Linked DNA regions of Homo sapiens. The protein of the gene in region 1 interacts with the protein of each later gene in a pairwise test. Each region holds a gene or a part of one and is shown in the gene's direction. Other genes may lie near its edges. The genes, in order: PBX3 and DGAT2L6.

The links.
Region 2: the proteins of PBX3 (region 1) and DGAT2L6 interact in a two-hybrid assay, tested with the Homo sapiens proteins (one large-scale study listed by BioGRID).

What each region holds. Positions count from the first base shown.
Region 1 is NC_000009.12:125,914,542-125,918,374, forward strand, and holds part of PBX3 (pre-B-cell leukemia transcription factor 3), read left to right. Parts: intron 1-1,144; coding exon 1,145-1,386; intron 1,387-3,833. UniProt on the Homo sapiens protein: Transcriptional activator that binds the sequence 5'-ATCAATCAA-3'.
Region 2 is NC_000023.11:70,194,240-70,198,072, forward strand, and holds part of DGAT2L6 (diacylglycerol O-acyltransferase 2-like protein 6), read left to right. Parts: intron 1-3,833. UniProt on the Homo sapiens protein: Diglyceride acyltransferase that uses fatty acyl-CoA as substrate. Particularly active with oleate as a substrate. Has no wax synthase activity to produce wax esters.

The sequences.
Region 1 (3,833 bases):
GTTATGTCATGTAAGTTACACTAGACACAAAGTGTGTACCACTGTGGATAAACAACAACAGGCACAGACTCAAAAGAGAATCCAAATACAAACAAGCAAGGTGCCAACTTCCTTTTCCCCTCTTCCCCAAGAAGCCTTGTAACTAGTGTAGGGAACCTGCTTTGAAGCAGATTTACAGAGGTTAATTGGGCTGGGATGTTTTAGATTATGTTACACATTAATGAAAATGCTGATTTTGAGCTGTCATGACTCCAATGCTTTTTATACCATGATAATTATTTTAAAACTTTGTCTTCTGTGTTGTTGAAAACATTTTGGCAGAAAGCCTGTGTGACCTGATTAAACCTATGAATTGTCAGCTATGATCTATAGTACTCAGAAGAGGTTGCTGACTGGGCATCACTTAGGAAGTTCTTGATTTAAAAGCAAAATTAGATTGAGACTACTGTGCCCAGCACTGTATTGCCATGTCAATGGCACATTTTTAATACTGTATTTAGTATCCTCGTTTTATAGTTTGCTGGCAATTGCTTAACAATATTCATTTAATAATATATATATATTTAAGTATAGCCAGTTACCTCATAATGTGTGTATTCCTCTTCTGAAATCACACGATGGAAAAGCTCATCTAATGTTGTTTATTTTTCAATTTTTGATTACAGCTTGTGAATTAACTATTTTATGGGAATTTTAATTCTGTTTCTCCAACTGTACAGAGAGAGACAGAATAACCACCTTTGGATGAGTTGTTTTATATCCCTGTAATTATTTTCTTTCTTTCTTAAAACATTCAATTTTTTACCCTCTTCCCATTTTATGCTTAAATTATCTAAATCTGGGAAGCTTGAATGATTAAAATATTCCAGGAAGCCAGGGTTACCTTTTTCTAAGGATCTAGTCTGTGGTAAATTGAGGCGGTGGGGGGGTATTTAAAATTCTAGGGTGCATGTAAACACTATCTTAAAAATAATTTTCATACTTATTCAAACTTACCGATCAAATGTGAACAATGAAGTTCTCAGCATGAATTGTAGTACACTGATGTTGTTTGATCATTTTCTCGAATAAACAAAATACTCACACTATTTGTCCTCTGTTTCTCGCTTCTTCTCTCTCTGTCTCTCTCTCTCTTTCCTTGAAGGTCTCAGCATCAGAGGAGCCCAGGAGGAGGACCCTCCCGATCCCCAGCTAATGAGACTGGACAATATGCTTTTGGCAGAAGGGGTTTCAGGTCCTGAGAAAGGTGGGGGATCGGCGGCAGCAGCTGCAGCCGCGGCAGCCTCTGGAGGTTCTTCAGATAACTCTATTGAACACTCAGATTACAGAGCCAAATTGACCCAGATCAGACAAATCTATCACACAGAACTGGAGAAATATGAACAGGTCAGCAGCCGCCACTCTCATAGTCCTACACAAACCCTCTGTTGCTCTTCTATTAGACCATGCTAACCAATTCTGAGGGCTGTGAGGGGTAGGTGTTAACACAAATTACAAAATAAATAAGGTCAGTGCAAAAATCCAAGTGAATTGTTGGATTCATGAAAGGAAGACCCTTTGAGATTTTGGAGGAGGAGCGCTACCTATTTTATCCCATCTACTTGTTTTAGTTTTATTCATTCCGCACATTCACGTGCCCTTATTACCACACCTGCAGTCATTCTTCCCTCTCACCTCACCACTTGGTGCTCTTCAAAGCTCTGTATAATTAACATTTATGCACTAGCCTTGTTCATAAGCTTTAATCACTTTTGAAGGGAAGCATTGCACAGTGAGCTTTTCCCTCCTATGCTGTGAGCTCCAGAATCCTCCTGGGAATTAATTCTTATGGATTGTGCCAGACTATAGGGAACTTCACCAAGTAAGCAGGTTCCGGCCTGTTTCTCTGAGTATGAGACCTCCCAAGATAATTATGGGTACCCCAGGACAGGGAATGCTAGGCAAGGCATTATGTGCTAAATTCCTTATTAGAAAGAGAATATGGGTTAAAAATCTGGTTCTCAGCAATTATATTAACCATACTGAATCTCAGATAACTTTAAGTTGCATCTTTATGTAACACCAAGAAAAAATTAATACTGCTAGTTTAACTATAAAATATTACTGATTATAAAATGCTTTCACATTTCAGAGATGTTAAAATGTGGAGAAAAACAAGAGAGTCTTAGATTTAATGTAATAAAGTAAAATATTGGTGGGTCTTTTTACATATATTTTAGTTGTTAGTTTAATGCTGAAAAGCTGCCAAGTTTGAGGAATTCTCATTTGATAAGATTTGTCATTTGGAAGGTAATTTTAAAAACGTATTATGAAACATTTTATAATACATGTACACAAAAATAATGAGAATAGTATTAGATTGAACCCTATGAAATTGCTAAGTTTTGAGGCCAAAAACAGTTGAATATGGTAATTTCATAGAGTTCAACCCCAAATAAGGAATCAGAATCAGCTAGATACTTTTTACCCAGATAAACAGTTATCAACATTTTGCCACTCTTATTTTGTGTACCCAGCCCCAATTTGGTAAGAGTATTTTAAAGCAAGTCTTAGACATCCTATAATTTCACCCATGAGTATTTCACTATGTAGGCAAGTACTTTTTAAAGTCCACACACTTTAGTGTGAAATGGGAGTCCTGGTGAGTTTTGTGTGTGTTTGTGTGTATTTTAAAGACTCTTTTAAAGAGGAGTTTTAAGTTCACAGACCAATTTGAGAGGAAAGAAGAGAGATATCACATATACCTCCTGTCCCCACACATGCATAGTCTCTCCCATTATCAGCATCCCCCACCAGAGGGGTTCATTTGTTAAAATTGATTAACCTACATTGACACATCATTATCACCCAAAATCCATAGTTTACATTAGGGTTCACTCTTGGTATTGTGCACTCTATGGATTTGGATAAATTTATGATGGCATGTACCCATCATTATAGGGTCATGCAGAGTATTTTCACTGCCCTAAAGATCCTCTGTGCTATTCATCCCTCTCTTCTTTTATTCTTTCCTTCCCACTGATCCCTGGCAACCCCTGATCAGTTTTAATACTGATTTTTTCCCCTCTACATTCCCTGTATAGTTTCAATTATATATATCGTTGTTTTTTCACATTGCCTTTTCTAATATTCTGGATACAATGGTATTAAGCAAATGCTGAATCCTATCCCAGAGGTGAGTGTGTTTTGAGGAAGAGTAGAAAAATTTGTATAGCTTTAAGTTAAAAAGTAGTGTAAATTAATATTATAAGGTGTTTTCTATTTTTGGAATAGGATTTTCTGAGATCTAAAATTGTATGTCTAGTCTCATTTGTAAGAATAACTTCTTGTGGAAAATGTACAAATAAGAATTTTGGAAAAATTATCGTGTGTATGTATGTAAAAATCCCACTTTCTGATTTGACATATGAATAATTGAGAGTAAACAAAATAAGTCATGGTTGAAAAGGTTGCCCCTGAGCATAAACAGTAGAAAATGACTCTTATTTGTAGTATAATCCTAATTGTATAACTTTATGCTAAAATAACTATAACTACTTACTAGATAAACACTACCAGTCACCTTGCATGGAAAGAGATATAATATTAGAGGCCAAATGGCCTGAGTTTTTTGGCTGAGGAATTAAGGTGATTCCTTACTACCTCTTGCCATGTGTCTTTACACCTGCCTCCTTACTTTCTCCATACACTCTGGTGGAAGTTGTGTGAAGCTGGTGTCAGTCAATGACAAGGTCCTGAGTCTCACTGTTTTAGAAATATCCTACAAAATTTTCCATGAGATTTTATGTAACTTTAGCCCCAGCTTATACCAGCATCAAATCACCAGGGTTTTT
Region 2 (3,833 bases), on another chromosome or scaffold:
GAAGAAGCCACAAATAAGTTGAAAGATATCCTGTGTTCATGGACTGGAAAAATTAACATTATTAACATGTCTATACTACTCAAAGTGAGCTATAGATCCAATACAATCCCTATGAAAATTCCAATGACATTTTTAAAAGAAACATAAAAAAATCCTAAAATTTGTATGAGACAACAAAAGACCCTGAATAGCCAAAGTAATCTTGAGAAAGAAAAACAAAGCTAGAGGCATCACACTTCCTGATTTCAAACTATATTACAAAGCCATAGTAATCAAAACACTATGGTACTGACATAAAAACAGACACAGAAACCAATGAAATAAGATAGATAGCCCAGAAATAATCCCATGCATTTATAGTCAACTAATCTTTGAAATGGGTCCCAAGAATACACAATGGGAAAAGGATAGTTTCTTCAATAAATGGTGTTGAACTAGACATCCTCATGCAAAATAATGAAACTAGACTCTTACCTTATGACATACACAAACATTAACTCAAAATGGATTAAAGACTTAAATGTAAGACCTGAAATCACTAAACTCCTAAAAGAAAATATAGGGAAAAAGCTCCTTGACATTGGCCTTGACAATGATTTTTTGGATATGACAACAAAAGCACAGGCAACAAAAGCAAAAATAAACAAGCAGGAGTACCTCAAACTAAAAATCTTCTGCCTAGCCAAGGAAACAATCAACAAAATGAAAAGGCAACCCACAGAATGGAAGAAAATATTTGCAAACCATATCTCTTATAAGGGGTTAATCTCTAAAATATATAAAGAACTCATACCACTCAATAGAAAAAAATAAAATAACATAAACTTTTTAATAGGCAAAGGACTTGAATAGACATTTTTCCAAAGAAAACATACAAATAGCCAAAGGGTATATGAAAAGGGGCTCAACATTATTAGTCATCAGGGAGCTGCAAATCAAAACCACAGTGAGATATCACCTTACACCTGTTAGGATAGCTATTATCAAAAAGACAAATGGTAAGTTTTGGTGAGGATATAGATAAAAGGGAATCTTTGTACACTGTTGGTAGGTATGTAAATTGTTACAACCAGTATGGAAAATAGTGGGGAGTTTCCAACAGTAATGAAATTAGTGTCTTGAAGAAATATCTGCACCCCCATGTTCACTGCAGTATTATTAGTAATAGCCAAGACGTGGGATCGACCTAAGTGTCCACTGGCAGATGAATGAATAAAGAAAGTGTCACACACACACACACACACACACGAATATTATTCAGCCATAAAAAGGAGATCCTGCCATTTGCAATAACATGGATGAACCAGGAGGATACTATGCTAAGTGAAATAAGCTAGACACAGAAAGAAAAATACCATATGATCTCATTAGAGCTGGATGTGGTGTCACATGTTTGTAATCCTAGCTACTCAGGAGGCTGAGGTGGGAGCATCACTTCAGCTCAGGAATTTGAGACCAGCTTGGGCAGCACAGAGAGAACCTGTCTCTAAATATATATATTTGTAAATAAATGTAAATTAAATTCATAGAAGCAGAGAATAGAATGGTGGCTGCCAGGAGCTGGGGCAGAGGGAAAATAAGGAAAAATTTGTCAAAGGGCACAAAATTTCAGTTACAAAAAGAATAATTTCTGGGAATCTAAAGTATAGCAGCATTAATAATACTGTATTATATGCTTGAAATTTGCTGAGTGGATCTTAAGTATCCTCACCTCTAGCCACAAACACACACAAAGGGTAACTATGTATGGTGGTGAATGTATTGATTAATTTGATTGTTGTAATCATCACACAATGTATACCTGTCTCAAATCATCACATTGTGCACATTGAATATACACCATTTTTATTTGTAAATTATACCTCCATAAAACTGGTAAAAATGAACTTGAAGTGTATTGTAGATCTAAATGTAAAAAAAGAAAACTGTAAAATGTTTAGTAGAAAACACAGGGGAGGTCAGGGGCAGTGGCTCACACCTGTAATCCCAGCACTTTGGGAGGCTAAGGCAGGAGGACCACTTGAGACCTGGAGTTTGAAACTAGCCAGGGCAACATAGCAAGACCCTGTCTCTACAAAAAAATACAAAATAAATTGGCTGGGTGTGGTGGCATGCTCCTGTAGTCCCAGCCACTCTGGAGGCTGAAGTGGGGGGATCGCTTGAGCCCAGGAAGCGGAGGTTGCAGTGAGTTGAGCCGAGATCACGCCATGGAACGCCAGTCTGGGTGACAGAACCAGATCCTGTCTCAAAAAAAAAAAAAAAAGAAAGAAAAAAGAAAAAAAAAGAAAAAAGAAAGAAAGAAAAGAAAAGAAAATATAGGGGAAAAATCTTCATGACATGAGGTTAGACAAAGAGTTCTTTCAGTTTGACACCAAAAGCACAATCTATAAAAGAAAAAAAATTAATAAGTTGGGCTTCATCAATATTAAAAGCTTTTGCTGTAAAAAGGACCCTGTTAACAAGAATGAAAAGATAGACACAGATTAGGAGAAAATGTTTGCAAATCACATATCAGACAAAAAAACTTATATCCAAAATGCATAAAGAACTACCGAAAGTCAACAGTAAGAAAACAACCCAATTGAAAAATGGGCAAAAGATTTGAATGGACACTTCACCAAAGAGGATATACAGAAAGCAGACAAGCACATGAAAAGCTGTTACGCATCACTAGCTATTGGAGAAATGCAAGTTAAAATTATGATGAGCTACCAATGCGCATATATTAGTTTTTTTTTCTTCTTTTTTTTTCTTTTCTTTTCCCCCAGTGCACATATATTAGAATGGCTTGGCCATCTTCACTACAAACTAAATTAGGAGCCTACCTATGTGAACTTCCTCTTTGATAACCCTCTCCAAGACGCCTCACTTGAACGTGACAAGAGAAATTGGAACCATCTTCTGGTGTCAAGGCCATAATACCTAAGGGAGTGTCACACATACATAAATGCTTGTTCTTCATCATTCCTTCTTCAGATACCCTTGCTTTATGTCACGGAACTCTTTTTACATGAGACTTAGCTCTTCCACATTTGGCTTCTATTTCTCCTATATCTTTAAATTCCACTTTTGTTACCGTGCACGACACTGATGACACTCGGGCTGGGTCTGGAAGCCTTGCTCTGAAAAAAACGTTCCTCGTCTCCTGCCGGGTCATATCTGCAGTTCCAATAGGTTCCACAAGGGGGATGGTGTTACCCAGGTAAGGGCTCTTAGACCGCCTTTAGGACTGGTGGATGAATGAATCAGATAAAAGGCACACAACTAATCCGTCTATGCTTTTAAAATAACATCACATTTAAATAACACTATACATGCTGACTAAATAGTAATTATCAAGTTTACTACTGAAAAGAGAAAACATTTGCTTATTTCGTTTTCAATTGGTCTACAGATATTTGTTGAACACCTACTGTGTGCCAAGCTCTCTTCTAAATACTGGGGAAACAAACAAAATTTATTTGAAACAAAATATAAAAGAAATGATACACTTAGGCTAACTTTAATTAGTGATTATTCTTATTTAACTTTATCTGAATTTCCTTCTGAAGCTTAACTGGCAAATTTACTCTCCTCTTTGATGAAGGGCATAGATAGCAAGGCTTTTTCTCCATGGCAGGCTTCCCATAAAACTCCTCCCACCACGCTTTCCTGTCTAATTTGAATGCTTACAACAACTATCTCGACCAGTGCTTATGAGGGCAATTCAGCCTATTACAAAGGTTTCTTCTACTCCATAACATGACTTTTTAAAGCACTGTCCACTCAGCCTTTTTCCTGCTATTTTCATTTATGTCCAAAATGCAAGAGACAAAGAACTGGTAGGTAACTCC